Linked DNA regions of Homo sapiens. The protein of the gene in region 3 interacts with the protein of the main gene of each other region in a biochemical or structural test. Each region holds a gene or a part of one and is shown on either strand. Other genes may lie near its edges. The genes, in order: MAP3K1, KEAP1, IKBKB and TNFAIP3.

Region 1 (7,179 bases), on a different chromosome or scaffold from region 3:
TTGACATATGAAAACCCAAAGTCTGGGCTCTTTAATTAAAAATTCATAGATACTTTATGCTGAAATGGTTTTTGAAGTATACATGCTGTAAATTACTACCATTTTTTAAGTTTCCATGTATTTTTCAGTAATTGGAACTTATATGGTAATGAATGTTTTTTTCTTTCAGGTATAAGAAGCTGCTGTCCCTCTTAACCTTTGCTTTGCAGTCCATTGATAATTCCCACTCAATGGTTGGCAAACTTTCCAGAAGGATCTACTTGAGTTCTGCAAGAATGGTTACTACAGTACCCCATGTGTTTTCAAAACTGTTAGAAATGCTGAGTGTTTCCAGTTCCACTCACTTCACCAGGATGCGTCGCCGTTTGATGGCTATTGCAGATGAGGTGGAAATTGCCGAAGCCATCCAGTTGGGCGTAGAAGACACTTTGGATGGTCAACAGGACAGCTTCTTGCAGGCATCTGTTCCCAACAACTATCTGGAAACCACAGAGAACAGTTCCCCTGAGTGCACAGTCCATTTAGAGAAAACTGGAAAAGGATTATGTGCTACAAAATTGAGTGCCAGTTCAGAGGACATTTCTGAGAGACTGGCCAGCATTTCAGTAGGACCTTCTAGTTCAACAACAACAACAACAACAACAACAGAGCAACCAAAGCCAATGGTTCAAACAAAAGGCAGACCCCACAGTCAGTGTTTGAACTCCTCTCCTTTATCTCATCATTCCCAATTAATGTTTCCAGCCTTGTCAACCCCTTCTTCTTCTACCCCATCTGTACCAGCTGGCACTGCAACAGATGTCTCTAAGCATAGACTTCAGGGATTCATTCCCTGCAGAATACCTTCTGCATCTCCTCAAACACAGCGCAAGTTTTCTCTACAATTCCACAGAAACTGTCCTGAAAACAAAGACTCAGATAAACTTTCCCCAGTCTTTACTCAGTCAAGACCCTTGCCCTCCAGTAACATACACAGGCCAAAGCCATCTAGACCTACCCCAGGTAATACAAGTAAACAGGGAGATCCCTCAAAAAATAGCATGACACTTGATCTGAACAGTAGTTCCAAATGTGATGACAGCTTTGGCTGTAGCAGCAATAGTAGTAATGCTGTTATACCCAGTGACGAGACAGTGTTCACCCCAGTAGAGGAGAAATGCAGATTAGATGTCAATACAGAGCTCAACTCCAGTATTGAGGACCTTCTTGAAGCATCTATGCCTTCAAGTGATACAACAGTAACTTTTAAGTCAGAAGTTGCTGTCCTGTCTCCTGAAAAGGCTGAAAATGATGATACCTACAAAGATGATGTGAATCATAATCAAAAGTGCAAAGAGAAGATGGAAGCTGAAGAAGAAGAAGCTTTAGCAATTGCCATGGCAATGTCAGCGTCTCAGGATGCCCTCCCCATAGTTCCTCAGCTGCAGGTTGAAAATGGAGAAGATATCATCATTATTCAACAGGATGTAAGTATAGATTCTTTAAGAGGTTAGAAAACTTCCTTGGGGCTGGGCACAGTGACTCATACCTGGAATTCCAGCACTTGGGGAGGCTGAGGCCGAAGGATTGCTTGAGCACAGGAGTTCGAAACTAGCCTGGTCAACAAAGCAAGACCCTGTCTCTACAAAAAATTTTAAAAATTAGCCAGGCATGATAGTGTACACCTGGGGTCCCAGCTACTCAGGAAGCTGAGGTGGGGAGGGTCACTTGAACCTGGGAGTTTGAGGCTACAGTGAGCTGTGATTACACCATTGTACTCTAGCCTGAATGACAGAGCAAGACACTGTCTCACAGAGAGCTTCCTTGGACCATACTAAAATAAACCTAATTCAGAAATGCTGCTTCTAACATTCAGAAGCAGAGTTTTCCACATAAAATTATTACTTATACAACAATAATGTTTGTACTGTTTAAACAGCAATAATTCTTGCCTATGGGCATTTCCGGTTAATTGTATAATGGTGATTACTTTTGCATTTGCTGTCGGTCACAAATACCTTCCATTCAGAGGTCACATTTATAGGTGGTTTGGGAAGCCAGACTGAATAAGAATAATATCTTGCAGACTAATTTCACAAAATCTTACTCCTTTAACAGTAAAAAGATTGCTTTCGTTTAATATGTAGACACCAGAGACTCTACCAGGACATACCAAAGCAAAACAACCGTATAGAGAAGACACTGAATGGCTGAAAGGTCAACAGATAGGCCTTGGAGCATTTTCTTCTTGTTATCAGGCTCAAGATGTGGGAACTGGAACTTTAATGGCTGTTAAACAGGTAAATATCTAGTGAGCATATAAATGAAATGACTCAAATCACAAAATGAAGCATGTTCAGTAAAAAGAATAAAGGATATGTCCACGTGTGTGTACTTTAGTTCTTTAAACTTTGAGAAACTTAGTTTCAAAGTAGATGTTTCTAAAGCACCAGAAACATCATGAATTCTGTTATTGTTAAAAGTTGAGGCCACGCGTGGTGGCTCACACCTGTAATCCCAGCACTTTGGGAGGCCAAGGTGGTTGGATCATTTGAGGCCAGGAGTTCAAGACCAGCCTGGCCAGCATGGTGAAACCCTACCTCTACTAAAAATACAAAAATCGGCCGGGCAGGGTGGTAGGCACCTGTAGTCCCAGCTACTCAGGAGGCTGAGACAGAAGAATTGCTTGAACTCAGGAGGTAGAGGTTGCAGTGAGCCGAGATCGCACCACTGTACTCCAGCCTGAGCAACAGAGCAAGACTGTCTCAAAAAAAAATAAATAAAAGTTGAAGTATGATTATTGTAAGACTACAATATCAAGATGGGCCTTACAAAGGTTTTTTTGGTTTTGCTTTTTGTAGGTAGTAGAGGTGGTTTTCAGGTACTTCTTTCAACAGTGTACTTGTGCGGTGCCATCTTGGGGTTTCAGTGGTTTACTTTTTATTATAACGAGCATACTTAATCAGGATAGGAAAATTATTAAACTTTCATTTTTAAATCATGTTGATTCTTCTCCCATATTTGGGCTTTTCTCATCTTTACTCTGAGACTATTGGAATATTGACTATATCCCAATATTTTTGTCATTTTTCTGATGTTTACTGCTGCTTAAGCTAGATTCTTAGTGTTTAAAAGAGTTTGACTTGGGTTTGTTTAAAGTACATTGCATCCATAAGCATAAATGCCATCTGTTGCTAATAAAGTGCTAGTTTGCATTTGTTCATTTTAGATCAGATTGCTAGTGAAAATATGCAAAACTTTGTGAACGTGTTTATTTGAAACAGGTGACTTATGTCAGAAACACATCTTCTGAGCAAGAAGAAGTAGTAGAAGCACTAAGAGAAGAGATAAGAATGATGAGCCATCTGAATCATCCAAACATCATTAGGATGTTGGGAGCCACGTGTGAGAAGAGCAATTACAATCTCTTCATTGAATGGATGGCAGGTATGTTAATGTTTTAAATTACAAAATAGTAGTACGTGGATTTAACTTTCTGCAATTTAGGAAAAACCAGTTTAATTAAAATTTATTTCTATCAAATAGTTTGGGTTTCTAAAAACAAATCACCCCAATATATTAGTATGAACCACAAATACTTCGTTTTGTATTTCATTTACTATAAATGAAATATTGACTACCTCTACCTTTTAAATTTTTCCAGTGTGTTTTTAAATGATTGTGTAGCATTGTTGTTTTTAATACTTGATATGTATAAGATATGTATATTTCCAGGTAGCCATGATAAATTGGACAGATGAGGAAGTGTTTTAACATAACAATATACAAACAAAATTAACATATAACTTGAAAACTTACTACAAGTAAACTAGCACTGAAGCATAAAGTTGAACCTTGTCATCTGCTGAAATAAATGAAGACTGAGTTTTATTTTGTATTATACAATGTATACAATAAAATTAATGACCTGATGTGATGAACAGATTGTTTGGTTTAACTTCTTAGATTTGTGTGTGTATTTAAGAGTGCATTTCTCTTTACCAGTCAGTTCTTAAGTATGTTATCTGTTGGTTGGTCTTAATAAAGATTTACACTACAGTAGATAGGTTGACTACTATAAACACTTTTAAAAGCGGCTAAATTTGAGACATGTTCCAGGTCAGAGCTAGTAAATGGTAGAATATGACGCCTAACTCTGGGTTTTCTGTTCCTCCTCCCATTCTTTCCACCTTTTACTACATAATATGTTAACATTGTTTACTTTAGTCATTAATAAAGTTGTTTTGTGTATTTTGAGAAGACAGAGAATTGAATTGTACATTTCAGAAATAGTTTAATCCGAAATTGTTAACTTTTACAGCTTTCTGAAATCTTGACTCTCCAATAAACTGGTTTCCCTGTGGGTTCTGTGAAAATGTCTCCTAATTAGTAGGTTTTTGAGATGATACAGGAATATGTTAGTTTTGAAATGTTTTTCTTCTGTTTCAGATGTGAATGTGAGTTCATGCAGTGAAAACTTTAGAAACCAAAGTGTAATAAATACTTTTAATTCTGTCTTAAGTTTATGATAATTATTTCTATTGTCTTATAGGGGGATCGGTGGCTCATTTGCTGAGTAAATATGGAGCCTTCAAAGAATCAGTAGTTATTAACTACACTGAACAGTTACTCCGTGGCCTTTCGTATCTCCATGAAAACCAAATCATTCACAGAGATGTCAAAGGTGAGAATTCTTCTAATTATTATCTAGTGACAATAAAAAAATTAATTTTAAAATTTGGGGCCAGGCACAGTGGCTCACACCTGTAATCCCAGTACTTTGGGAGGTGAAGGCAGGTGGATCACTTGAGGTCAGGAGCTCGAGACCAGCCAGGCCAACATGGTGAAACCCTGTCTCTACTAAAAATACAAAAATTAACAGGGTAAGGTGGCGCATGCCTGTAATCCTGGCTATTTGGGAGGCTGAGACAGGAGAATTGCTTGAACCCGGAAGGCAGAGGTTGAAGTGAGCTGAGATCACACCACTGCACTCTAGCCTGGGTGACAGAGTGAGACTCTGTCTCAAAGAAGAACAAAAAAATGGACCTTTGTTGATAGTTTCTAACAGTGGGATTTTTTTCTCTGAGTAATTCAGAATATTAGAACTGAAATGAGCCTTAGGGATCATTTAATCTGCCTTCCTCGTTTAATAGAAAAGTACATTGAATACAAGAGAGGCTGTGCCTTTTCTACAGTTTTATTGCTAGTTAATGGCAGAAAGTATACAACACAGGTCTCCAGATTCCCTGTCTTGGCCTCATGATACGCTGACTCCCAGAAAGTTCCTTTTCCTGGTTTTATTTTGAATAATTGGGATATTGGGATATCATCAACTTCTTTTAAGAAAAATTCCTTCAAATCCTTTGTAGGTCCCATTATTTTCCTTATCCTTTTCTTTTTTTTGGAGACAGGTTCTCTGTCACTCAGGCTGGAGTGTAGTGTTGCAAACTTGGCACACTGTAACTCATTTCCTGGGCTCAAGTGATCCTCCCACCTCAGCCTCCCAAGTAGCTAGGACAACAGGTGTGCACCACCATGCCTGGCTAATTTTTTATATTTTTTGTAGAGATGGGGTTTTGCCATGTTGCCCCCAGGCTGGTCTTGAACTCCTGGGCTCAAGCGACCCGCTTGCCTCAGCCTCCCACAGTGCTGAGATTACAGGCGTCAGCCACCGTACCTGGCCTCAGTTTATTTTTCTCAAGAGCAAATTTGGTTTTCTGTCATTAGTCTTTTTAGCTAGTATTTGACATAATGTGTTGAAGTAATTTTATAACTTTTTAAATTAAGCTCTAATTATGAATTTAGCGTACGCTAGAGAGAGCTGTGTGCCTTTAGCAAGAATGAAGTGAAAGGAAAAGAGAATAACTGTTTGCACCTCTGACATGTAGTTCACTTCTTTCTTTTGTCATTGTCCTAGTTCATTAGTATTGTACTGGGCTTTTATCTGTCCTTATTTTTGTTTTTAACATACAAGGTCATTTGCTGTGTTTGTTGACAGGTGCCAATTTGCTAATTGACAGCACTGGTCAGAGACTAAGAATTGCAGATTTTGGAGCTGCAGCCAGGTTGGCATCAAAAGGAACTGGTGCAGGAGAGTTTCAGGGACAATTACTGGGGACAATTGCATTTATGGCACCTGAGGTGAGAAGCATCTTTGAGTGTGATGACAGAAAATATTTTGGAATTCTGTGTAACAGCATTATACTAAATTATCTTGCAGTGGTATCCAGTATGTACTTACCAACTAGAAGTCCGTGGCCCTTAAAATACGGTTTTAATAATATCTTTCAGACCCTTATTCTCGACCTTTCTTTGCCTTGGCAATATTCAAAAAACAGGTTTTAATAGATTTACTTAACGGCTGTTACTAATAAAGAATTCTGGGGTAATTTATAGCAGTTGTTTTGTAATAAACTCAAAGTGCACATAAGAAATTTTTAAAAATATTCTCTCTCTATTCTAAAAGGAGATGAGCATACAGAGGCAGCTCCTGTCTGTAGTGGAAGGAGTTTAAGCATTGTTCTTCTGACTCAGCTTCTTCTGTCGTGTTCATAATTCTTCATGTTCATATGTAGTAATGATCTGTTGTCCTCTTGCCACATAGTTTGCTAAGAGCAAAATTCTGTGATGGGACTCTGCTTCAGAATCTCACAATTCTCCAAAATATTTTTGTGCTACCTGGAAAATTAAGCTCATTAATGAAATAAATTAGATATTAGGTAGTCCACAGAATTCCTGTTTGTACCAGTTTTCTCCCTAAAGTAAGGAAGTAGAATCTATAACTACAAAATGGCCTTCTCTTTTTCAAATGAGTCCTATTTCCAAATTAACTCTGATTTATTTTAGGTACTAAGAGGTCAACAGTATGGAAGGAGCTGTGATGTATGGAGTGTTGGCTGTGCTATTATAGAAATGGCTTGTGCAAAACCACCATGGAATGCAGAAAAACACTCCAATCATCTTGCTTTGATATTTAAGGTAATTGTGAGATAAAAATTACTTCTTTGTGCTAAAAGGAGTACAGCAGAATTTGGCAGGAGGCAAATTTTGATGGGTTCTCCCTAACAATCTAGCATGAAGGTAAATAAATAGTCTGTATATTTATTCAGAGAGGATTTGATATACAAGTTTTTTACTTTAAGATGGTGCAAAAGCAATACAAATTTGGTAAAAACCATACTTTGAATTTTGATTTTTGTC
Region 2 (7,179 bases), on a different chromosome or scaffold from region 3:
TATCCAAGAATAAATCACATGGTGACAGCTGCCGGCATGGGTGAGTGGGACCCAGGCCTATTACCCGGCCAGAGGGTTTGGGGGCCTCTCTCCTGGAAGCCTGCTCTTTCCACACCCCCTTTCCCAGCCAGGCTGTCTTGGACACTCCCGGGGCTCCGCTGAGGGGCACATGATTCCCGCTTTGGACTTCTTTTGAGATGTCATTTTAACACTGAGGCATCCTGGCCTCCCTTCCCGGAAGATGGGTTATTTGCAGTGCTGTCTTTTCTTTTAGTCCCGGTTTTTGTACAAAAACAATGATACTCCCCATTGGACTGTATTTTTGCCCAAGAAACAAAAGTGCCTCAACAGGTACAGTTCTGCTGGTCAATCTGCTTCCGGCAGGGCTCCATGGTGACAGCCACGCCCACCCCACTCCGGCCCGATGTCATTCGGGTCACCTCGCTCCAGGTGTCTGTATCTGGGTCGTAACACTCCACACTGTCCAGGAACGTGTGACCATCATAGCCTCCTGCGGGAAGAACAGAAGGGATGGTCACCACCTGTCACACCACATCCAAGAGCAGGGGACAGAAAGAGAGAGATGCAGCTGTGAGATGCAAAAGCAGGCCGGGCGTGGTGGCTCACGCCTATAATCCTAGCACTTTGCAGGGCTGAGGCAGGAGGATTGCTTGAGGCCAGGAGTTCGAAGCCAGCCTGGGCAACATAGCAAAACCTTAGTCTCTTACTAAAAAAAAAAAAAAAAAAAAAAAATGGCCAGGCTTGGTAGCTCACGCCTATAATCCCAGCACTTTGGGAGACTGAGGTGGGTGGATCACTTGAGTCCAGGAGTTTGAGACCAGCCTGGGCAACATGGTGAAGCCCCATCTCTACAAAAAAACATAAAAATTTAGCCAGGCTTGGTGGTGCGCGCCTGTAGTCCTAGCTATTAGGGAGGCTGAGGTGGGGAGGATCAGTTGAGTCTGGGAGGCAGAGGTTGCAGTGAGCAGAGGCTGCACCACTGTACTCTAGCCTAGGCAACAGAGTGAGACCCTATCTCAAAATAAATAAATAAAAATAGGAAAATAGGCCACTCGCGGTGGCTCATGCCTGCAATCCCAGCACTTTGGGAGGCCGAGGCGGGCAGATCACCTGAGATCAGGAGTTCGAGGCCAGCCTCGCCAACAGAGTGAAACCCTGTATCTACTAAAAATACAAAATTAGATGCGATTGGTGATGCACGCCTGTAATCTCAGCTACCTGGGAGACTGAGGTAGGAGAATCGCTTGAACCCGGGAGGCGGAGGTTGCAGTGAGCTGAGATTGTGCCACTGCACTCCAGCCTGGTGACAGAGCAAGACTCCACCTCAAAATAAATAAATAAATAAATAAACAAAAAATAAAAAAATAAAAATAAAATAAAATAAAGGCCGGGCACAGTGGCTCATGCCTGTAATCCCAGGACTTTCGGAGGCTGAGGCAGGTGGATCACCTGAGGTCAGGAGTTCAAGACCAGCCTGGCTAACATTGTGAAACCCCGTCTCTACTAAAAATCAAAATTGGCCGGGCATGGTGGCTCACACCTGTAATCCCATCCCTCTGGGAGGCCGAGGCGGGCAGATCACCTGAGGTCAGGAGTTCGAGACCAGCCTGACCAACATGGAGAAAACCCTTCTCTACTAAAAATACAAAATTAGCCGGGCGTGGTGGCGCATGCCTGTAACCTCAGCTACTCGGGAGGCTGAGGGAGGAAAATCGCTTGAACCTGCCAGGTGGAGGTTGCAGTGAGCCGAGATCGAGCCATTGCACTCCAGCATGGGCAACGAAAGTGAAACTCCATCTCAAAAAAAAATTAGCTAGGCGTGGTGGCACGTGCCTGTATTCCCAGCTACTCAGGAGGCTGAGACAGGAGAATCACTTGAACCTGGGAAGCAGAGGTTGCAGTGAGCCAAGATTGCGCCATTGCACTCCAGCCTGGGCAACATGAGCAAAACTCTGTCTCAAAAAAATAAAATAAAATAAAATAAAAATAAACAAAAACATTAAGCTGGGCGCGGTGGCTCACACCTGTAATCCCAGCACTTTGGGAGGCTGAGGTGGGCAGATCACCTGAGGTCAGGCGTTCAAGACCAGCCTGACCAACATGGTGAAACCCCATCTCTACTAAAATACAAAAATTAGCTGGGCATAGTGGCAGGCGCCTGTAATCTCAGCTACTTGGGAGGCTGATGGGGGAGAATCACTTGAAACCAGGAGGCGGAGGTTGCAGTGAGCTGAGATCGTGCCATTGCACTCCAGCCTGGCAACAGACTGAGACTCTGTCTCAAAAAACAAAACAAAACAAAACAAAACAAAAAACAAAACAGGCCGGGCGCGGTGGCTCATGCCTCTAATCCTAGCACTTTGGGAGGCCGAGGCAGGTGGATCACGAGGTCAGGAGTTCGAGACCATCCTGGCCAACATGGTGAAACCCTGTCTCTACTAAAATACAAAAAATTAGCCTGGTGTGGTGGCATGTGCCTGTAGTCGCAGCTACTCAGGAGGCTGAGACAGGAGAATCGCTTGAACCCAGGAGGTGGAGGTTGCAGTGAGCTGAGATCATGCCATTGCACTCCAGCCTGGGCAACACTGTGAGACACCATCTCAAAAGAAAAAAAACATTAGCCGGGTGTGGTGGTGCGCGCCTGTGGTCCCTGCTACTTGGGAGGCTGAGGCAGGAGGATGGCTGGAGCCCAGGCTGTTGAGGCTCCAGCGAGCTGTGATCACACCACTGCACTCCAGCTGGGCAACAGAGCGAGACCTTGTTTCTAAAAAAAAAAAAAAAAAAAAAAAAAAGGAAAGCAAAAGCAAAAGCAGTCCACAAAAGATGGGCTAGTCAGGACTCTTCCCCGCCCCCAGGGCCTCACCAAGGACGTAGATTCTCCCCTGGTGGACAGTGATCCCCAGGGCACTTCGCCGGTGCTTCATGGGGGCTACGAAAGTCCACGTCTCTGTTTCCACATCGTAGCGCTCCACGCTGTTCAGCTGGTCCTGACCATCATAGCCCCCAGCAGCATAGATACAGTTGTGCAGGACGCAGACGCCTAAAGGGCACCATGCAGAGAAGGTGACTCTGGGGGTCTGGCTTTGGGAACCCCAGCCATCACCTCCTTGAGGGAGACCTTTCCTCTCTCCTCTCCCTTCTCACCCTCAGAAATGAAGCGGGGAGAGAGAGAAGCTTGGACTCTATCAGAATCCAGGGCTTCTGTGGTTACCCCAGCATGAGGGTTGCAACAGGGGGTCTCTCCCAGGCCTGGCTCAGTTTCACCCCAGGATGGTAGGGGGTGTTCCTGGGTGCTCCCCTCCCTACCGTCCCCACCCACCTGCCCCGCTTCGGATGGTGTTCATTGCTGTGATCATTCGCCACTCGTTCCTCTCTGGGTAGTAACACTCAGCTGAATTAAGGCGGTTTGTCCCGTCAAAGCCCCCCACGGCATAAAGGAGACGATTGAGGACAGCCACGCCCACCCCGATCCTTCGTGTCAGCATTGGGGCCACCAAGTGCCACTCATCCCGCTCTGGCTCATACCTGCAAGGGCGTAAGAAAAATGGGGACAATGGCCATTATAGCTGACCTTCGTGGAATACTTAAGGGCCAGATACTCTTTTTTTTCCTTTTTTTTTTCCCCCTTAAAGAGACAGGTTCATCCGGCGCGATGGCTCATGCCTGTAATCCCAGCACTTTGGGAGGCCGAGGAGGGCGGATCACCTGAGCTCAGGAGTTTGAGACCAGCCTGGCCAACATGGTAAAAACCTGTCTCTACTAAAAGTACAAAAATTAGCTGGGTGTGATGGCAGATGCCTGTAATCCCAGCTACTCGGGAGGCTGAGGCGAGATAATCACTTGAACCTGGGAGGCGGAGGTTGCAGCGAGCTGAGATCATGCCACTGCACTCCAACCTGGGCAACAGAGCGAGACTCCATCTCAAAAAAAAAAAAAGAAAAAAAGAGACAGGGTCTTGCTCCGTTGTCCAGGCTGGAGTGCAGTGGTGCAATCACTGAAGCTTCAAACTTTTTTTTTTTTTTTTTTTTTGAGATGGAGTGCAATGGTGAGAGCATGGCTCACTGCAACCTCCACCTCCTGGGTTCAAGCAGTTATTCAGCCTCAGCCTCACAAGTAGCTGGGATAACAGGCACCCACCACCACGCCCGGCTAATTTTTGTATTTTTAGTAGAAATTGGGTTTCGCCATGTTGGCCAGGCTGGTCTCAAACACCTGACCTCAAGTGATCTGCCTGCCTCAGCTTTCCAAAGGGCTGGGATTATAGGCATGAGCCACCACACCCAGCCTGCAGCTATCAACTCTTGGGCTCAAGGAACCCTCCTGGCTCAGCCTCCTGAGTAGCTGGGACTACAGGTGCACACCACCGTGCCCACCTCCACTCGAACTCTAGTGCTTGCAGTTGTTCTCCAAGGATTGAGGTATCAGCAACTCCATTTTCCAAATGACAAAACTGAGCCTCCTAGCCATCAATTGCTCAAGTTCAAAAACACATCTGATAAACCCCTAGTGGCTCAGCCAGATCCCCCACTTCACAGATAACAAGATAACATCTCAGAAAGGAGAAATCACACATTCAGCATCACTCTTTGATGCTCAAAGAGTCCTTTAGGTCCGGCACAGTGGCTCACACCTGTAATCGCAGCACTTTGGGAGGTTGAGGTGGGAGAATCCCTTGAGGACAGGAGTTCAAGACCAGCCTGGCCAACATGGTGAAACCCCATCTCTACAAAAAATACAAAAATTAACCAGGCGTGGTGGTGGGTACTTGTAGTCCCAGCTACCCCAGGGTCTGAGGCAGGAGAATCACTTGAACCTGGGAGGCGAGGTTGCAGTGACCCAAGATGCACTCCAGCCTGGGCAACAGAGCAAGAGAGACAGGGTCTTACTCTATTGCCCAGGCTAGTCTCCTGGACTCAAGCAATCCTCCCACCTCAGCCTCCCAAAGTCCCTGATTATAGGTATGGGCCACAGTGCCTAGCCCAACAATTTCAAACTGATGGAACATTTTCCAACTCCGCACAAAGGAACCATATGGGTTTGTGACAGTCCCCTAAGCATTTCCCAGCCCCAGGCACAGAATCAAAGGTCACTGACTAGAACTCTCCAAGGAGCTTAGCTTCATCCTGAGGCCTCCACTCCCTGAAGACAGGAAGAGGAAACAGCCTCAGGAAGAATACCCGGATCTCAGTGTCTTGGGACTTGCCAGGAGCAGGACCCTCCGAGCCCACCCCCAGGCCCTGCCACTCACCTCTCCACACTGTTGTGGTGGATGCAGCCGTGGGAGCCGCCGACGGCATAGATGTGGCCATCGATGACCCCCACCCCGATGCGGTTACGGGGCACGCTCATGGGGGCGCAGGGCGACCACTGATTGGTCATGGGGTTGTAACAGTCCAGGGCGCTGGAGTCGGTGTTGCCGTCGGGCGAGTTGTTCCTGCCGCCCACGGCGTACAACAGCCCGCCCACCACGCAGCCGGCCAGGCCGCTCCGCGGCACCTGCAGGTCCGCCAACCGGAGCCAGGTGCCGTCACTGGGGTTGTAAGCCTCCAGGTAGCTGAGCGACTGTCGGAAGTAGCCGCCCGCGGTGTAGATCAGGCGGCCCACCTTGGGCGCCCGGCAGGGCATCACCTGCGTGGGCTTGTGCAGGGTGAGCTCCTCGAAGATCTTGACCAGGTAGTCCTTGCAGCGGGAGTCGGACTGCAGGATCTCGCACTTCTGCAGCTGCATCTGCAGGAAGTTCGGCGTCAACGAGTGGCAGCGCACGGCCCGCAGCAGCGCCTGGACGTAGAACCGTCGCTGTTCGCAGTCGTACTTGACCCAGTTGATGCAGGCGTGGAAGACCTCGGACTCGCAGCGCACGTTCAGGTCGTCCCGGCTGATGAGGGTCACCAGTTGGCAGTGGGACAGGTTGAAGAACTCCTCTTGCTTGGCCACCTGCAGAGGGCGACAGTGGGACGGGCTGACTCTCCAGTCACCCCCACACCTCACCAAGCAGGACCGGGACAAGTAACTTATCACTGCCGCTGACAGTCTCAGCTTCCTTATCTGCTAAATGGGGATTCAAATAATAGGAACCGCGTACATTGTGATGACTAAATGAGTTAATCCTGCCGGGCGCGGTGGCTCACGCCTGTAATGCCAGCACTTTGGGAGGCCGAGGCTGGCGGATCACGAGGTCAGGAGTTGAGAGACAAGCCTGGCCAATATGGTGAAACCCCATCTCTACTAAAAATACAAAAATTACCCGGGTGTGGTGGCACACGCCTCTAGTCCCAGCTACTCGGGAGGCTGAAGCAGAAGAATCGCTTGAACCCGGGAGGCGGGAGGCGGAGGTTGCAGTGAGCCGATATTGCGCCACTGCACTCCAGCCTGGGCGACAGAGCAAGACTCTGTCTCAAAGAAAAAAAAAAAAGAGTTAATACTATGTGCCAAGTATGTCATCAGGACTCAGGAAAATGGGCAAAGACTCAGTAGATCGTGTACCCTGGGGTATCATTTGGCTTTGGTTTTTGAGACAGAGTCTCACTCTGTCACCCAGGCTGGAGTGCAGTGGCATGATCTAGGCTCACTGCAACCTCTGCCTCCCAGGTTCAAGCAATTCTCCTGCCTCAGCCTCTCAAGTAGCTGACATTACAGGCACCTACCACCATGCCCCGTTAATTTTTATTTTATTTTATTTTATTTTGATATGGATTCTTACTCTGTTGCCCAAGCTGGAGTGCAGTGGTGTGATCTTGCTTCACTGCAACCTCCGCCACCCAGGTTCAAGTGATTCTCCTGCCTCAGCCTCCCAAGTAGCTAGGATTACAGGAGTGTGCCTCCAGAGCAGCTAATTTTTTTTTTTTTTTTGGAGACAGTCTTGCTCTGTCGCCCAGGCTGGAGTGCAGTGGAGCGATCTCCGCTTGCTGCAACCTCCGCCTCCTGGGTTCACGCCATTCTCCTGCCTCAGCCTCCCGATTAGCTGGGACTACAGGCGCCCGCGACCACGCCCAGCTAAGTTTTTTTGTATTTTTTTAGTAGAGATGGGGTTTCACCGTGTTAGCCAGGATGGTCTCGATCTCCTGACCTTGTGATCCACCCGCCTTAGCCTCCCAAAGTGCTGGGATTACAGGCGTGAGCCACCGCGCCCGGCCATTTTTTTGTATTTATTTTTAGTAG
Region 3 (7,731 bases):
GAGTTGTGGAGGGAAATAGGGAGAGACTGGTTAATGGGTACAAAATTACGGTTAGGTGGAATAAGTTACAGTATTCTAAAGAACAACAGGGTGACTACAGTGAATAAAACTTTATTGTATATTTCAGGCCGGACGTAGTGGCTCACGCTTGTAATCCAAGCACTTTGGGTGGCTGAGGTGGGCAGATCACCTGAGGTCAGGAGTTTGAGACCGGCATGGCCTACATGGTGAAACCCCATTTCTACTAAAAATACAAAAATTAGCTGGCATGGTGGTGCACACCTGTAATTCCAGGTACTCAGGAGGCTGAGGCAGGAGAATCACTTGAACTCAAGAGGCGGAGGTTGCAGTGAGCCAAGATCACACCACTGCACTCCAGCCTGGGCAACAGTGCGAGACTCTGTCTCCGGAAAAAAAAAAATATTGTATATTTCAAAATAGCCAGAAGAAAGAATTTTGACTGTTTCCAACAAAAAGGATACGTGTTTCAAGTGATGAACACGCCAATTACCCCGATTTGATCATTACACATTATGTATCAAAATATCACACTGTACCCCATAAATATGTACAATTATTATGTGTCAATTAAAAATAAAAACAGGCCAGGTTCAATGACTCATGGCTGTAATCCCAGCACTTTGAGAGGCCAAGGCAGGAAGATCACTTGAGGCCAAGAGTTCTAGACGAGCCTGGACAACATTGTGAGACCACCATCACTACAAAAAATAAAAAAAAAACCTCAGCTGAGGCCAGGTCCCATGGCTCAGGCCTGTAATCCAAACATTTTGGGAGGCAAAGACGGGAAGACTGCTTGAGGATGAGAGTTTGAGACAAGCCTGGGCAACATAGCAAGACCCCATCTCTACAAAATTTAAAAAAATGTTAATTATTTGAAATATGGATTTTCATCATCATTCTAAATGAATTCTCACTTTCATGTGGATCTGCTTATTTTTTGCCGTGCAGTATCGCAAGCAATACTGGGAAGACATCATAATTAGCAAATATTTTAAATATATATATATATATATATTTTTTGAGACAGGGTCTCATTCTGTCACCCAGGCTGGAATGCAGTGACACTATCTCGGCTCACTGCAACCTCTGCCTCCTGGGTTCAAGCGATTCTCCTGCCTCAGCCTCCTGAGTAGCTGAAGTTACAGGCATGCACCACCACACCAGCTAATTTTGTATTTTTAGTAGAGATGAGGTTTCACCATGTTGGCCAGGCTGGTCTCAAACTCCTGACCTCAAGTGATCCTCCTGCCTCGGCCTCCCAAAGTGCTGGGATTACAGGTGTAAGCCACTGCACCCGACATTTAAAATAATTTTTAAAAAATGGTTTTGAAACAAGGTCTCACTCTGTCACCTAGGCTAGAGTGCAGTGGCACAATCATAGCTCACTACAGCCTCAAACTCCTGGACAAGCAATCCTCCCACATCAGCCTCCAATGTAGTGGGACTACAGGTACGCACCAAGGCTGCCTAAGGTTTTTTTTTTTTTTTTTTTTTTGAGACGGAGTCTCACTCTGTTACCCAGGCTGGAGTGCAGTAGCGCAATCTTGGCTCACTGCAACCTCCGCCTCATGGGTTCAAGCGATTCTCCTGCCTCAGCCTCCCAAGTAGCTGGGGACTACAGGCACGTGCCACCAAGCCTGGCTAATTCTTTGTATTTTTAGTAGAGATGGGGTTTCACAGTGTTAGCCAGGATGGTCTCCATCTCCTGACTGCGTGATCCGCCTGCCTCAGCCTCCCAAAGTGCTGAGATTACAGGTATAAGCCACCACGCCCAGCTGGCTGCCTAATTTTTAAACCTTTTTTGTAGAGACGAGGTCTTGCTATGTTGCCCAGGCTGCTCTTGAACTACTGGCCTCAAGGAATTAAAATATTTTAAATTATTTATTTAGTCTCATCCTTTAAATTTTCCTATTTCTATATGTTTTATAACATATAATATCAGTATATATTAGTACATGATATTCTACTGTTACCATATATATATAATAGAGACTAAGAGCTTAACTTTATTTTACTATTTATTTAGGTGACATAGTCAATAAAGCATGGAGACCACTAACCTGGAGTCAGCTCAGAAGTCCTGAAGCCCTCTTCCCAGTCCCCCTATTCACTGTCCCAAGATGACCAAAGCCAAAGGTGAGCCCTTGGCCCAGCAGGATCAGAGAAAGTGGAGGCAGTGAGGAGGGGGCCTGGCTCCCCGCCCCTCCCCAAGCTGCACAGAGGGCCTACCTGATTGTGCCATCGGATGACATTTCCAAATCCCCCTGTCCCAAGGCGCTCTTTCATTTCCCAGGCCCCACATGTCTGCGTTGTCAGGGAAGGTGACCAGCTCATACTGATGTCGTGCTAACTCTATAAGCAATTTGGGATGGGGAAAAAAGGTTAGGATTAAGAAAAAAATGGAGCTCAAAGGGATGGAGAAGGCAAGAGATACCACTGCTCTTGAATGGGAGAGAAGAAAAATACAACTGGTTTTTTATTTTGTAAAGAAACCAATGTGTTTGGTTGGTCCAAACTTTGTGGCAAACTTTTGTCCCTCTCACCCTCCCCCATCCGGTTGCTGTGGCATCAGGCAAGGAAGAAAGTCACCGAGGGAGGCGATGCCCACGCCCTTGCCCTAGCGAGGGGATCCCCAGCTGACTCCACCAGGGGCGCCCGGGCCTGCCCGCCTTCTGCCCGAGGTGGCAGGGGCAGAACCTACTTCTGAGCATCGCCGAGGTCACGTGTTTCTTTACAATGTTCCCATAAATCGCAGGTTCCCCTCAAAGCCACCCACCCCCAAGAAGCCACCCCAGGGAGAGCTGTTTCTCCCGGCTTCCCGAACTCCAACCCGCACAAGTGAAACGCTCCCCAGTCCGCAAGCTGCGACTTCCCAGCGGCACAGAGGGGTCTTCCGGGCCTTGCAGGCAGCGGGGCGGCGGGGCCTGCAGGTGGCACCCGGGCCGCACCCACGAGGGGGACTCACCTGTCGGCAGGGACGCGGGGCAGGGGGCGGGCTCCCCGGGGCGGGGAAGGCGGGGCTGGGGCGGCCAAACCCGGGGCTATGACACCCCCCTGAAAACATTAAAATGCGGGAATCTTAACGCGGGCAGCGCGGCGCGACTTCCTCAAACACTTCCTGCTCTGACGTCACGGAGCACGTTGGCCGCGGCCGCTCTTAAAGAGGCCGCTCCCGGCGCGAGGCAGACCAGGTCCGGATGCTGCGAGTGCTGCGCCTGTCCCGGGACCCTCGACCGGGCGACTCCCCCGGGGCGGGGGTGGCGTGTGGTCTCTAGACAACTGAGGGAAAGTAGACAGACCGTGCTCACCGATTTAAAAGAACAGCCCTGAAATGACCCCCGTTACACCCTGTTCTCTTTAGACAAGTTACTTCCACCTGGAGCGGTTTCTGGGCCCGGGTATGGGGATTTCTTCACCCGGCCCCCTAGGCTTTCACCTCGGTGGAATTTCCCGCGCCCCCGCTGGGATGATTTAGGGACTGTTGGCTAGAACTGCCCTTGCCTACCGCCCTACTGCGGGCGCTCCCCTGTCTGGGGGGTGCTTGGCTGGGTGTGGAGAAGGATCAATCACAGCTGACTCCTCAGAGGTGACAGCCCCTGCCCCCTTAAAAACAAGAAAAGACCTAGCAGTGTGAAGCCAAACTGCACCCCCAGCCCCGGTGACATGAGGAAACCGTGAGGCGCTCAGCCTGAGGTTCATCGTTCATCTCCTTCCTGCTTGGAATCAGAATGTCCTCACTGCTGAGTTTCTCCGTTTTATGGGATTACATTAGTGGACAAAGGAGGTGTGTGTGTGTGTTGCTATATTTTATTCAAGCAGAAAAAAACTACCAAAGGAACCTGAAGATGATAATAATAGCTCACATCTATAGAGTGCTTACACAGTGCAGGGCTCTGTTCTAAATCTCTGTACTTAGATTTCCTTATTCAATCCTCAGGGCAACCCTGTAAATTGGAAAATACTGCATCATCATCATCATTATTATTATTATCTCGCTCTGTCACCCAGGCTGGAGTGCAGTGGTGTGATCACAGCTCAGTGCAACCTCCAACTCCTGGGCTCAAGTGATTCTCCTGACTACAGGTGCGCGGCCGCCATACCTGGTGGCGGGGTCTCACTCACTGTGTTGCCCAGGCTGGTCTCCAACTCCTGGGCTCAAGGGATCCACCCGCCTGGGCTTCCCAAAGTGTTGAGATTACAGGCTGTGAGCCACTGCACCTGGTCTGCATTATTATTATTTCCAAGGTACATGGCTGCTACGTAGATGAGCTGATACTCAAACCCTAGCAACTGGTTCCCGGGTTCTTAATCCGTGGCTAAAAGTAGCATGTTAAGAAGTTCAGAAGGAGGCAAACTGGATTTTGAATCCAGATACTGCTGTTGACTACCTCTGAGGCACGGGGGCTGGTTACTTAAACACTGTGAGAACCTATTTCCTCTTTTAAAATTTAGGCAATATTAGGTTGAATTGCATTTAATTGTCATTTTTTGGAAATTGAAAACAGCCAAAACATCAGTAACAAAGATCAGCAGTTTCATCTGCTTCATTGTAATAGCAGGGGGACAGGCGGGCTCATAGAAAGTCATAGAAAGGAGGCCACCCCAGAGTTGTTGTGAGGGACAAATGAGGTATTGATAGCAGCAGTGCCTGACAGCCCTGGGGTTGAAGTTAACTCAGGGACAGATCTCAACCCAAACATAGGGGTCAATGGTGTCCAGGGCTGTGCTAGGCACGCTGGCTGCTCGGTTTCTCCCCTCTCCCCTCTTCCCTCTCCTTTCTCTTTTTCTTTCTCTCTCTCTCTCTTTTCCTTCCTTCCTTCCCCCTCCCCTCTCCTCCCCTCCCCTCCACTCCCCTCCCCTTCCCTTCCCTTCCCGGCTACTTGGTTTCTTTCTTTTCCTTCTTTTCCTTCCTTCCTATCTCTCCTCCTTCCTTCCTTCTTTCCTTCTTTCCTTTCCTTTTCCTCCCCTCCCCTCCCCTCCCCTCCCCTCCCCTCGCTTCCCCTCCCCTTCCCTTCCCAGCTGCTAGCTTTCTTTTTTTTCTTTCCTTTCTTTCTTCCTTTCCTTTCCTTTCTTCCTTTCCTTTCCTTTTCTTTCCTTTTCTTTCTTTTTTCTTTCTTGACAGGGCCTTTCTCTATCGCCCACTTTGGAGTATAGTGGCAGGATCACGGCTCACTGCAGTCTTGACCTCCTGGGTTCAAGGGGTCCTCCCGCCTCAGCCTCCCCACTAGCTGAGATTACAGGCACGTGCCACCATGACCAGCTAATTTTTAAATTTTATTTTGTTGACATGGGGGTCTCACTATGTTGCTCAGACTTGGCTTGAACTCCTGGCCTCAAAGCAATCCTCCCGCCTTGGCCTCCCTAAGTGCTGGGATTACAGGTGTGAGCCACCGCTTCTGGCCTGGTATTTCTTGATTACTCCCAGCTAAATGGCAAGCTCAGCCTCAAGGCCAGAAGCAACAGGAACATGAGTAAATAGTTGTAACACACGTAGAATAGTGACTGCATTGTCTAAGTGCAATATAAGTGTTTGCTTAATAAGTAAATTTTTTAAATAAAATATTTATTGGCCAGGTGAGGTGGCTCATGCCTGTAATCCCAGCACTTTGGGAGGCCAAGGTAGGCAGATCACTTGAGGTCAGGAATTTGAGACCAGCCTGGCCAACATGGTGAAACCACGTCTCTACGAAAAATACAAAAATTAGCTGGGCGTGGTGGCAGGTGCCTATAATCCCAGCTACTTGGGAGGCTGAGGCAGGAGAATCACTTGAACCCAGGAGCTGGAGGTTGCAGTGAGTGGAGATCGCACCAGTGCACTACAACGTGGGCGACAGAGCGAGACTCCATCTCAAAAAAAAAAATTTGGCCGGGTGTGGTGGCTCACCCCTGTAATCTCAGCACTTTGGAAGGCCGAGGCAGGCAGATCACTTGAGGTCAGGAGTTCAAGACTAGCCTGGCCAACATAGTGAAACCCCGTCTCTACTAAAAATACAAAAATTAGGCCAGGCACAGTGGCTTACACCTGTAATGCCAGCACTTTGGGAGGCCAAGGCGGGCAGATCACGAGGTCAGGAGATCAAGACCATCCTGGCCAATATGGTGAAACGCCATCTCTACTAAAAATACAAAAAAATTAGCTGGGCGTGGTGGCACGTGCCTGTAATCCAAGCTACTCGGGAGGCTGAGGCAGGAGAATCGCTTGAACCCAGGAGGCAGAGGTTGCAGTGAGCCGAGATCGTGCCATTGCACTCCAGCCTGGGCGACAAGAGCAAAACTCCATCTAAAAAAAAAAAAAAAAAAAAAAATTATTGAGCACCTATATGTGCTGGGCACTGTGGAGAGTCCATTTCCAGTACAATGTCATAAAAGGTTTCTCTTTAATCCTGTCATCTCTGAAAAACACTGTCCTGAGAAACTTACCAAGATGTCCGCTAATATGCCAAAAGTTTACTCTGCGCTCCTGTAATTTGAATCCTCATTTTGCTCAGCTCAAAATAACTTGGCTTTCAACTGAACATAAATCTCTCTGATAAGGTCACGTATTACTAGGCTTTTTTTTTCTTCAATTAATCATGGACCAGGAAGGGGCCTCTGGGTTTTATCATATTCCAAGATATTTATTATCTTAAGCTCAATTTTCTATCCAGATAAGACATGTTTAGCTATCTCTGCCTGCATCTGGTTTCTGTCCTGCTCTGGAGATATGAGCAGACTGTTTACAAAAGATATTTTCAGATTCAGCAGAAAAATGTCCCCTTTTCTTCCTGCTTTGAGGCTGAGTGTGCTTTTTAGCTGTGCTATAGGGAAATCAAGAAATACTGACCAGCCAGAGTGCCTAGCTCAGCCCAGGGCATTACTGACCCAGGGGATCCAAGCAATGGAATGAGATCTCATCAGAGGCACTTAGAATCTTACTGGGTTTTTAAGACCCACAGGGAGCCATGAAGTAAGGACAGACAAAGGCCAGGCAATATAAAATCACACACGGATTTGTTCTGCAGTAATTAGTACCACAGTACAGTACCGTTATAGGAAAGGGGTCCCGATCCAGACCCCAAGAGAGGGTTCTTGGATCTCGCGCAAGAAAGAATTCAGGGCGAGTCAGTAAAGTGAAAGCAAGTTTATTAAGAAAGTAGGGGCCAGGCATGGTGGCTCACTCCTGTAATCCCAGCACTTTGGGAGGCAGGTGGATCACGAGGTCAGGAGATGGAGACCATCCTGGCTAACACGGTGAAACCCCGTCTCTACTAAAAATACAAAAAATTAGCCAGGCATGGTGGCGGGCGCCTGTAGTCCCAGCTACTCAGGAGGCTGAGGCAGGAGAATGGTGTGAACCCAGGAGGTGGATGGATCTTGCAGTGAGCCAAGATCGCGCCAGTGTACTCCAACCTGGGCGACAGAGCGAGACTCCACCTCAAAAAAAAAAAAAACAAAAAAAAAACAAACAAAAAAAGAAGGTAAAGGAATAACAGAACGGCTACTCCTTAGACAGAGCAGCCCCCGAGGGCTACTGGTTGCCCATTTTTATGTTTATTTATTTATGCTAAACAAGGGGTGGGTTATTCATGCCTCCCTTTTTTAGACCAAATAGGGTAACTTCCTGATGTTGCCATGGCATTTGTAAACTGTCATGGTGCTGGTGGGAGTATAACAGTGAGGACGACCAGATGTCACTCTCGTGGCCATCTTGGTTTTGGTGGGTTAGAGCCG
Region 4 (7,663 bases), on a different chromosome or scaffold from region 3:
GAGGGAGGAGGATCACTTAAGCTCAGGAGTTTGAGACTAGCCTGGGCAACACGGTGAGACCTAGGTCTCTACGAAAACAAAAAATGAAAAACCGCAAAATAATAATAGAACAATAAATTCTATACTTCTAAGAACAGATATTGGAGCTCAATCATTTTAACTCAACTGCCAATGAAATTTTATCATCACCCTCCAGGTACCAACACAGAGGCAAGTCTGCCTGGCTTTTCACCCTGAAATCTTTAAGCATAATCAACTAGTAGAAGGAATGAAAATCTAGAAGTAGACAAGGAAAGAAGTTTCCACCAGGAGGCCACTCTGGCAAATGAAGGAGGAAAGGTGGCAAAGACCAGCATCTACAACCCATGCCAACAGCGCAGGATGATGCAAATTAACATGATGTAGGATCTCTCCAGTGTGGAACACTGTAAAAAGCCAGCTGTGATTTACTAGCCCTTAGTAGGGTGTCTGGCCACACTTCCTAATTTCCAAGAAGATGAAGAAGTTTTCAGAGCACAAAGACATTCCCTAGGAAATTTCACAGTGATTGTTAATTCCATTCCTGCAACATCTTATTTGCCAGGGCAACTTTCCAGTTAATAAAAATGTTAAACCTATGGAAGAGGGAGGAGAAGAAACCTAGATTTTAGGGTAGCTACTTCTGTGTGGGTCTAGACTCTCAACACCATTGATAAGGTGTTGAGATAATTCTTGTGGCCCACTCAAAGGAGAGAGGTTGGACTAGATGACCCATGGTTTCTCCTGAGGAGTTTTCTGGTGATAGTTTTAGATTGGGATTCTTAATCTGATTGCTGGGAAAGGCATAGTGGGAGTCATTCTCTGGATCAGATGGTGCTCTCTTTTGATGTCAGACGTCCTCTACAGGTGGAATTGGGCAAAATCATAGCAGGATAAAAATAACACATATACCTTTCCTTTGTGGCACAGCAAAAGTCTCTTTCACAATATCATCTATCCGTCCGTCCGTCCGTCCGTCCATCCATCCATCCATCCATCCATCCATCCATCCATCCATCTATCCATCCATCCACCCATCCACCCAACAAGCACTACCTGACCACCTACTGAAGGCCAATCACCATGCTTGATGATGGGACTAAAAGTCAAAGATGACCTTATTCCCTTCCCTGAAATTACACTACCACCTTAGTCTGCAGCTAAGGCAATGGAGTTACAGGTACTGCTCAGATCCCACAGCCATTCAGGGGCAAAGTTTTGCCTAGGAGCCAGGTCTTTCAATACCTGCCCCTTGCAATCCCACAACACCAAACCTGTGGCTACAGTGCCTGCCACAATCAGATGGAAAGAGATGGGCAGTAGGAAGATTTTAAACAAATGAGGTGTTATCTCTTTTTGCTTGCCTGACTCTTTTATTTTTCTCTTCTGAATCTAAAGATTTTTCACCAAAGATCTAAAATAGTGAGAGCTGTAAACCATAGGCAAGACATGCAAATGTCAATATCGGATACGCCAGTGTGATCTCATTGGTAGGGTTAGCCTTGCACAGCCTGTAAAACTGCCTCCTTAGAAATCAAAACCCACTGCCCAGATTTCCAGGTCTTGGACCACTCTACGCTTAAGATTAAAGAACAAATGTTTCAGATACGTTATAAGTGGCAAACAATGCAATATTACCCTTAACTTTTTTTTTTTTAACATTTGTTACCTCACTGTCTTATTTAAAGGTAGTTTCTCAACTTTTGTCACTAGGATTCCACAGAACTTCTCCGTTACTCAAACTCTTCTCCCCCTTGTTTTATTTTTCCACTCTGGGCAGACATTTTTGTCTGCATTGTGGAAATTGATGAATTATTTATCAACAAATACCTCATCCAAATTTGGGGATGTGCCTCTCCAAAAAATCAAAAATAGTACAAAGAATTGAAAAAAAAATCAAAGCAGCACCTTAAACAATGAGAATGAAGCATTCATTGGCTGCTCAATAATCTGGTACATTAAGGTTGCGGTCCAGAAGTCCCTTTAATTAACAATGGTTCTGCCAAAATGCTACCCTGAGACACTTGACCAGACTGGCTTTCCAAGGCAAGAAGATCTGAGGCGAGGAGAACCGAAAACAAAGCGGGCTCAAAAAGAGTTAAGCTCCTTCCTTACTTAATGCCACTGCTTTTCTGAGAGGCCAGGTGGCAGGATGTGGGACGACTCCAGCTGACAAAGACAGTCTAACCGTGGGGTAGGGGCTGGAGCAGGGGCCAGCGACCCACGTCTACATGCATACTTCTCTTACACTGCTGCTACTGGAAAAGCTGAACCCCGCGCCAGGACCCCAGCCCCCTGCAAGGACCCGTGAGCGTCTGGGAAGCTGTCTCTGGGACTGAAGCCCCCCACCTCCGCCGGGCTGGCGGCCACTGCGGTACCCTACGCCCCGTCGGGCTGGTCCTGCACAATTTGGGAAAAAGCCGCAGCGCTTCTGCAAGGTCTACGTGGCCATGAGCATGCAACGCTTGGCTCCAAAAAAGACACGAAAGGAGCAAAGCGCCAACGACCACCCGATCGGAGGGCCCGAGGGGCGCCTCTTCACCAGTCAGCTGCAGCTTAAGTTCCGTGCATTATCTGAAAGGAACAGCTGGCTGGAGGTATCCAGGGCTGTCACTCCAACCTCTGCAGCAGTGACCTCAACTCCCAGCACTTCAAAACCCAGACAGAAACGTCCAACAAACTCCCAGTCCAGGAGCGCTGCAAAACCAACGCCAGGTAGACGGTGCCAGCCCGGGGGTCGCTGCCCAACATGCACCCGCAGCCCTTGACTGCGGTGAGCCCGAGGCAGACGGCACGGGGAGGCGCGGCGGTTACCTCTCCGGGAGGCGCGGCGGTTACCTCTCCGGGAGGCGCGGCGGTTACCTCTCCGGGCCCCGCGATCCTTTCGCAAAGTCCCAAGTCCTGGTCAAGGCAGGAGCGCGCCGCAGGCGGGGGTCGGGGCAGGGACCGGGCGGAGGCGACGCTCCATGGACGCCTGGGGTCGGGCTCGCTCGCTGGCAGGGTCGGCTGGGGGTGTGATCTCTCTTGGCGGCCGCTCTCACCGCTCCGCCCCCGCGGGCTCCAAGCTCGCTTGGCCCGCCACGAAGACTGCAGACTGCGCAGTCTGCTTTGCCCCGTTTCAGTTGTATGCGGGTTGTAGGCCCGGGGATTTCCACGGGACTTTCCAAAGTCACGTGACTCTCTGGGTCGGGCTGCGAAGTGCGTCCAGCCGGCCGCCAGAGGGCGCAGGGGGCGAGGGGCGCGCGCGGCCTCCGCCCGACCGGGCCTGCGGGCCCCGCCCCGCCCCCTTTCCCTGCCCCGCCCCGCTGCCCCGCCCCGCCCGGTCCCTGCAGGCGCCCGGAGAAACTCCCTCGCCCCGCCCCGGGGTGTCCCCGCGTGAGTCACCTGGGCATTTCGGAAGCTGGGGTCACGTCACATCCATGTGGAAATCGCGGTGATGGGAACTGGAAATGAAATAGGTTCTTTTTCGCAGTTGTTTTTCTGCAGAAAATCATCAACTGTGGAGAAGAAGAAGGGAAATAAGAAAGAAAGAAAACCCTAAAAACCACCCTGGCGCCCGGGCCCGCAGGCCTCGGGCCGGCTCTGAAAAGTTTGGGCTGTGCACGTGATGAGCGCGTAGGCGGGAGCCCCAGACAGGACCCGGGCGGGCATTTCGAGAAAAAGCAGCGGTGACAGCCTTTGGTCCCCATCTCCATTGTTCCTGCCAGCTCTGGACCCCAGGCTGCATGAGACGTAGGTCCCAGGGGACACCCGACCCCGTGGCCCCAGTCTTAGGTAAACTTAGGAATCAGAACAACACTCACCCCTATGCCGCGCTTGCTCCATTTCCCCTTGTCTATTTCTGCTCACCAAGCATCCAGCTGACATTGCATTCAAAGCAGCATTTCAGCTTAGAAATCGCTTCTAGTCCATCACGGTGCTTGCCATGTGTCTCCAAGGCTTTATTAGGTGTGTTTTTAGTTGTCCTGATAATCAGTTCACCCCAGGGTGCTGATGGCTGATAATACTGGCGCTTCCCTCCCTACCCCCATGCGTTGCACAGGGAGGGTGAGTCATGTGGAGATGGATGCAGCCCCCTGGGCAGTGGGGGTGCAGGTGCTGTGCAGGGAGGAGTCTTAGGGCGTTTTTACTGTCTTACTGCCCTCTAAGCACGGGACCCTTTGGATCATTTACTAGATTGGCTAAACTAGAACCGGATGGAAATATTCTGTACTATGGTCCCCTTAATTACATTTAAGAATACTTGTCAGGCCATATATCACAGGTTTTTAATTAGAAAAGTATCCTCCTCTCGCCAGTAAGGACTTGCAGAGATGGGGGTGGGGGCTGGATGGAGGGTGGCACTTTTTTGGCAAAAAGAAGTTTGGAGCAGAGTGTCACTAGTGGCCTCTCTGAAGACTGGTCCTCGTCTTTTAAAACCGATGGCTGGAATTTCTTCCAGTTCCAAACCTCTTGTTATTTGTCCTCTCTTCTTGTTCACAAATGTGCTATCAACATTCAAACAATGGATAGTCAGCTATCCATTGTAAATGGACCTTGCTGGAGTCCAGGGCTAGCAGAAATGACAGGGTCTAAAATGACATTTATCAAGTACTTGCTATATGCTTATATATGCTTTTTATATGAAGGTTAAGAAGCTTGAGGCATTTGCCCAGTTTCCACAACCAAAAGGGGCAGAGTCGCCAGTGGCATTAAGCCTGTGTTACTCCAAAGCCCATAATGACCAGTCTTACTAGACCATTCCTCTCAGGAAAGATCCTGTGAGACAGGTACTCTTTTGGTGTCCTGTCTCCCAGCCTCTCAAAACAGCCAAACACGGACCTTAGACAGAATGCGGCTTCAGAGGTAGAAGGGTCTTGGTTTCACCTTCAGGAAACCTCCTGGGTTTCAGTTGAGCTGGCAGAAGAAGATCATGTATCTGAAAGACCCTGCATGGAATGTTAATCCTCACACCACTCTCCTGCTGGTGCTCCTTTGTAAACAGAGTTGGCCTGTTTCCTCTCATCTCTGGCTCCATGACTTCAATCCTCCTGCAGCTTCCACTGCCCCTATCTGGCTCATGTCTTGCTGTCTGGTGTCATGAACTGGGAGTGCAGTAAAGAGGAGTGACAAGCCTGAGGGGCCACGTTCATACCTGCCACTGCCAACTGTCCTGATGTAACTGCTTTGTCATCTTGCCTGCCAGGATTTGTGACAAGGTAATAGCAGTCAGATGCAGGAGTGGTCTATAGCCCTGGATTATGTTCGAACTCCACTTTCCATGATTCTACTGCTGGGCTTGTGAATTGCCACTCCCACCACCAGGCGGTCTTTACTGTCCTTTCCACCTTCTAAATCAGCGCTGTGTTGGGCTGTACCCTTGCCTTTTCCCCTTCTATTATGTAACACATGGACAAGACCAATGACAATTTTCTTGGTGAATCAGAAGGAAAGAAAAGAAGAGAAGGAGAGAGTATAGATGGAATGCCTTCTTATGAAAAAAAGGAGAAATACAATTTGGGGAGATTTGTTGAATAAGTTGAAACCAAAGAGATATAGAATGCTGAAAAGCCTTGAAGGAGATTTAATTTGAGCTATAGGCCTTGTCAAGATGGACAGAACTCTTTAAAGAAGAGAATATTTATTAACATTTAGTAGACACTTAGGAGAAAAAATATGTCTCCTTATTAGATGAAAAAGGAATTCTGATTATGTGAAATATTTTTGGAGAGTTCCTAAGTTACGTGCCATTTTGACACCAATGCTGGGGTTTATGGGTCATGAACTATGTAAAATGAGCACACATGACCTCTTGGAATTAAACGGTTCCCGTGAGACTGTGCTTGCAGCCTGTATCCCTGTACCATGCAGTAAAAAAGATGTGCTTGCCCAGATGGGGGGAGCAGGAAGAACCTGATGAAAGAGAGCACCACGTGTGACAAGTGAGAGGAGACCCTGCTGAGCTCAAACATATTTCATGAGCCTTTCTTAATCAAGAATCAGCAACAGTTGATTGGTTGTTGATTCTTTTTTTTTTTTTTGAGACGTCGTCTTGCTCTGTCGCCCAGGCTGGAGTGCAGTGGCGCGATCTCAGCTCACTGCAAGCTCCGCCTCCCGGGTTCACGCCATTCTCCTGCCTCAGCCTCCCGAGTAGCTGGGACTACAGGCGCCCGCCACTACGCCCGGCTAATTTTTTGTATTTTTAGTAGAGACGGGGTTTCGCCGTGTTAGCCAGGATGGTCTCGATTCTCCTGACCTCGTGATCCACCCGCCTTGGCCTCCCAAAGTGCTGGGATTACAGGCGTGAGCCACCGCGCCTGGCCCCTGGTTGTTGATTGTTAATTAGCATGCGTCTGCAGTCCCAGCTACTCGGGAGGCTGAGAGGGAAGGGTCCTTTGAGTCCGGGAGTTTGAGTCTATCCTGGGCAACATAGTAAGACCCATGTTTCTAAAAATTAAAAAAATAAAAAAGAAGAAATTATGTATTTTTAATAATCAGTGACACTCTCTTTCTGAGACTGTACAGAATTCCAGGGCATGGCAGTCATGGGCCAAACTAAAACTGGACCTTTTGTGTCTTTTGTACAATTGCCCCCTCCCCTTTTCCCTGCACTGTGCTCTATTGGAAAGGCAGATTCATAGAAAACATATTGGGAAGCAGCCTTAGGTAACTATGGCAGCTTAGTTATTGTAGGGTAGCTTTGAATCATGTTTCAGATTTTCAAATTCTGCCTCAAACATTACTAAAGGGTAACGTTTGCACATTCAAGGCCACTACAAGGGCTAGTTCTGAGAATAAAGAGAAGCTTTCTGTGGATTATAACCGTGAGAACTGGGATAATGATGTCATAAATTTCATCATCCTATGAATGCCAAATTCTACTGAATGTTGCTTCTTATCTAGGGACCTCAGATCCTTTACATGTGTTATCTGGACTGAATGGAGAAACCCAAGACCCACCATGGTGGAGGGACAACTGAAGTCCTTAGTGACCCAGTGAGTCATAGTACCAGGATCAAAGACCCTCCACTGGGAAGGAGGCAGTTGGTGTAATGACAAGTACAGTTCCTTCTGTTGCACTTTGCCTGAAAGCGTGCGATGCTGACATCTCAAACTTGTCAGAAAATCCACTATCCCTGTGAATTCTGTTTTATTTCCTGTCAACACTTGGCTGAAACACTTGGGAAAGTAATTTTATTTTACATCATAAATATAAATATTCAATTCTTAGTTTCATTTATGTTTCTGTGAAGGCTGCTATTAATGACCAAATAGGATGTTAGAAAGCCCAGAAATGGGTGTTATTAGGAACGAGCTAGAAAGCAGTGTTGGTTTTAGCAGTAAGCCCGGTGTTTCTGAGATAAATTAGTTCCTGTTACTTGGAATAGTGCAAGCCATTGTGAAAATTTGCCTTGACATTCCCCTTTCTCATTTGTCCCTCAATCCCTTCAGTCTAGTTTGGGGTCTCTATAATCCTGCTCCTTTGGCTGCCAGCCATCTCCATAAAAAAAGAATTTGAAAGGCTTCCATTCTTTCAGAGACCTGTTTCCCGGGACTGGCTGGTAAGATAAATCATGCTCATTTTTCAAACAGATTGTGATGTGTTACTGTGTTATATTTCTTGATAAAATGTTCTTACAGAACTTCCTAGAGCTTAATGGTGGAA

Evidence for each region.
Region 1: of the proteins of IKBKB (region 3) and MAP3K1, one has a biochemical effect on the other in vitro, tested with the Homo sapiens proteins (3 studies listed by BioGRID and IntAct).
Region 2: the proteins of IKBKB (region 3) and KEAP1 form a complex in vitro, tested with the Homo sapiens proteins (one study listed by BioGRID).
Region 4: of the proteins of IKBKB (region 3) and TNFAIP3, one has a biochemical effect on the other in vitro, tested with the Homo sapiens proteins (2 studies listed by BioGRID and IntAct).

What each region holds. Positions count from the first base shown.
Region 1 is NC_000005.10:56,881,401-56,888,579, forward strand, and holds part of MAP3K1 (mitogen-activated protein kinase kinase kinase 1), read left to right. Parts: intron 1-169; coding exon 170-1,466; intron 1,467-2,126; coding exon 2,127-2,279; intron 2,280-3,263; coding exon 3,264-3,426; intron 3,427-4,531; coding exon 4,532-4,663; intron 4,664-5,977; coding exon 5,978-6,120; intron 6,121-6,825; coding exon 6,826-6,957; intron 6,958-7,179. UniProt on the Homo sapiens protein: Component of a protein kinase signal transduction cascade. Activates the ERK and JNK kinase pathways by phosphorylation of MAP2K1 and MAP2K4. May phosphorylate the MAPK8/JNK1 kinase.
Region 2 is NC_000019.10:10,486,308-10,493,486, forward strand, and holds part of KEAP1 (kelch-like ECH-associated protein 1), read right to left. Parts: intron 5,956-7,179; coding exon 5,270-5,955; intron 3,547-5,269; coding exon 3,341-3,546; intron 3,062-3,340; coding exon 2,885-3,061; intron 512-2,884; coding exon 345-511; 3' UTR 1-344. UniProt on the Homo sapiens protein: Substrate-specific adapter of a BCR (BTB-CUL3-RBX1) E3 ubiquitin ligase complex that regulates the response to oxidative stress by targeting NFE2L2/NRF2 for ubiquitination.
Region 3 is NC_000008.11:42,266,725-42,274,455, reverse strand, and holds the start of IKBKB (inhibitor of nuclear factor kappa-B kinase subunit beta), read right to left. Parts: upstream 3,155-7,731; 5' UTR 2,987-3,154; intron 2,899-2,986; exon of another isoform or gene 2,733-2,898; coding exon of another isoform or gene 2,723-2,732; intron 2,374-2,722; coding exon of another isoform or gene 2,356-2,373; coding exon 2,251-2,355; intron 1-2,250.
Region 4 is NC_000006.12:137,862,712-137,870,374, reverse strand, and holds the start of TNFAIP3 (tumor necrosis factor alpha-induced protein 3), read right to left. Parts: upstream 3,117-7,663; 5' UTR 2,833-3,116; exon of another isoform or gene 2,134-2,832; intron 1-2,133. UniProt on the Homo sapiens protein: Ubiquitin-editing enzyme that contains both ubiquitin ligase and deubiquitinase activities.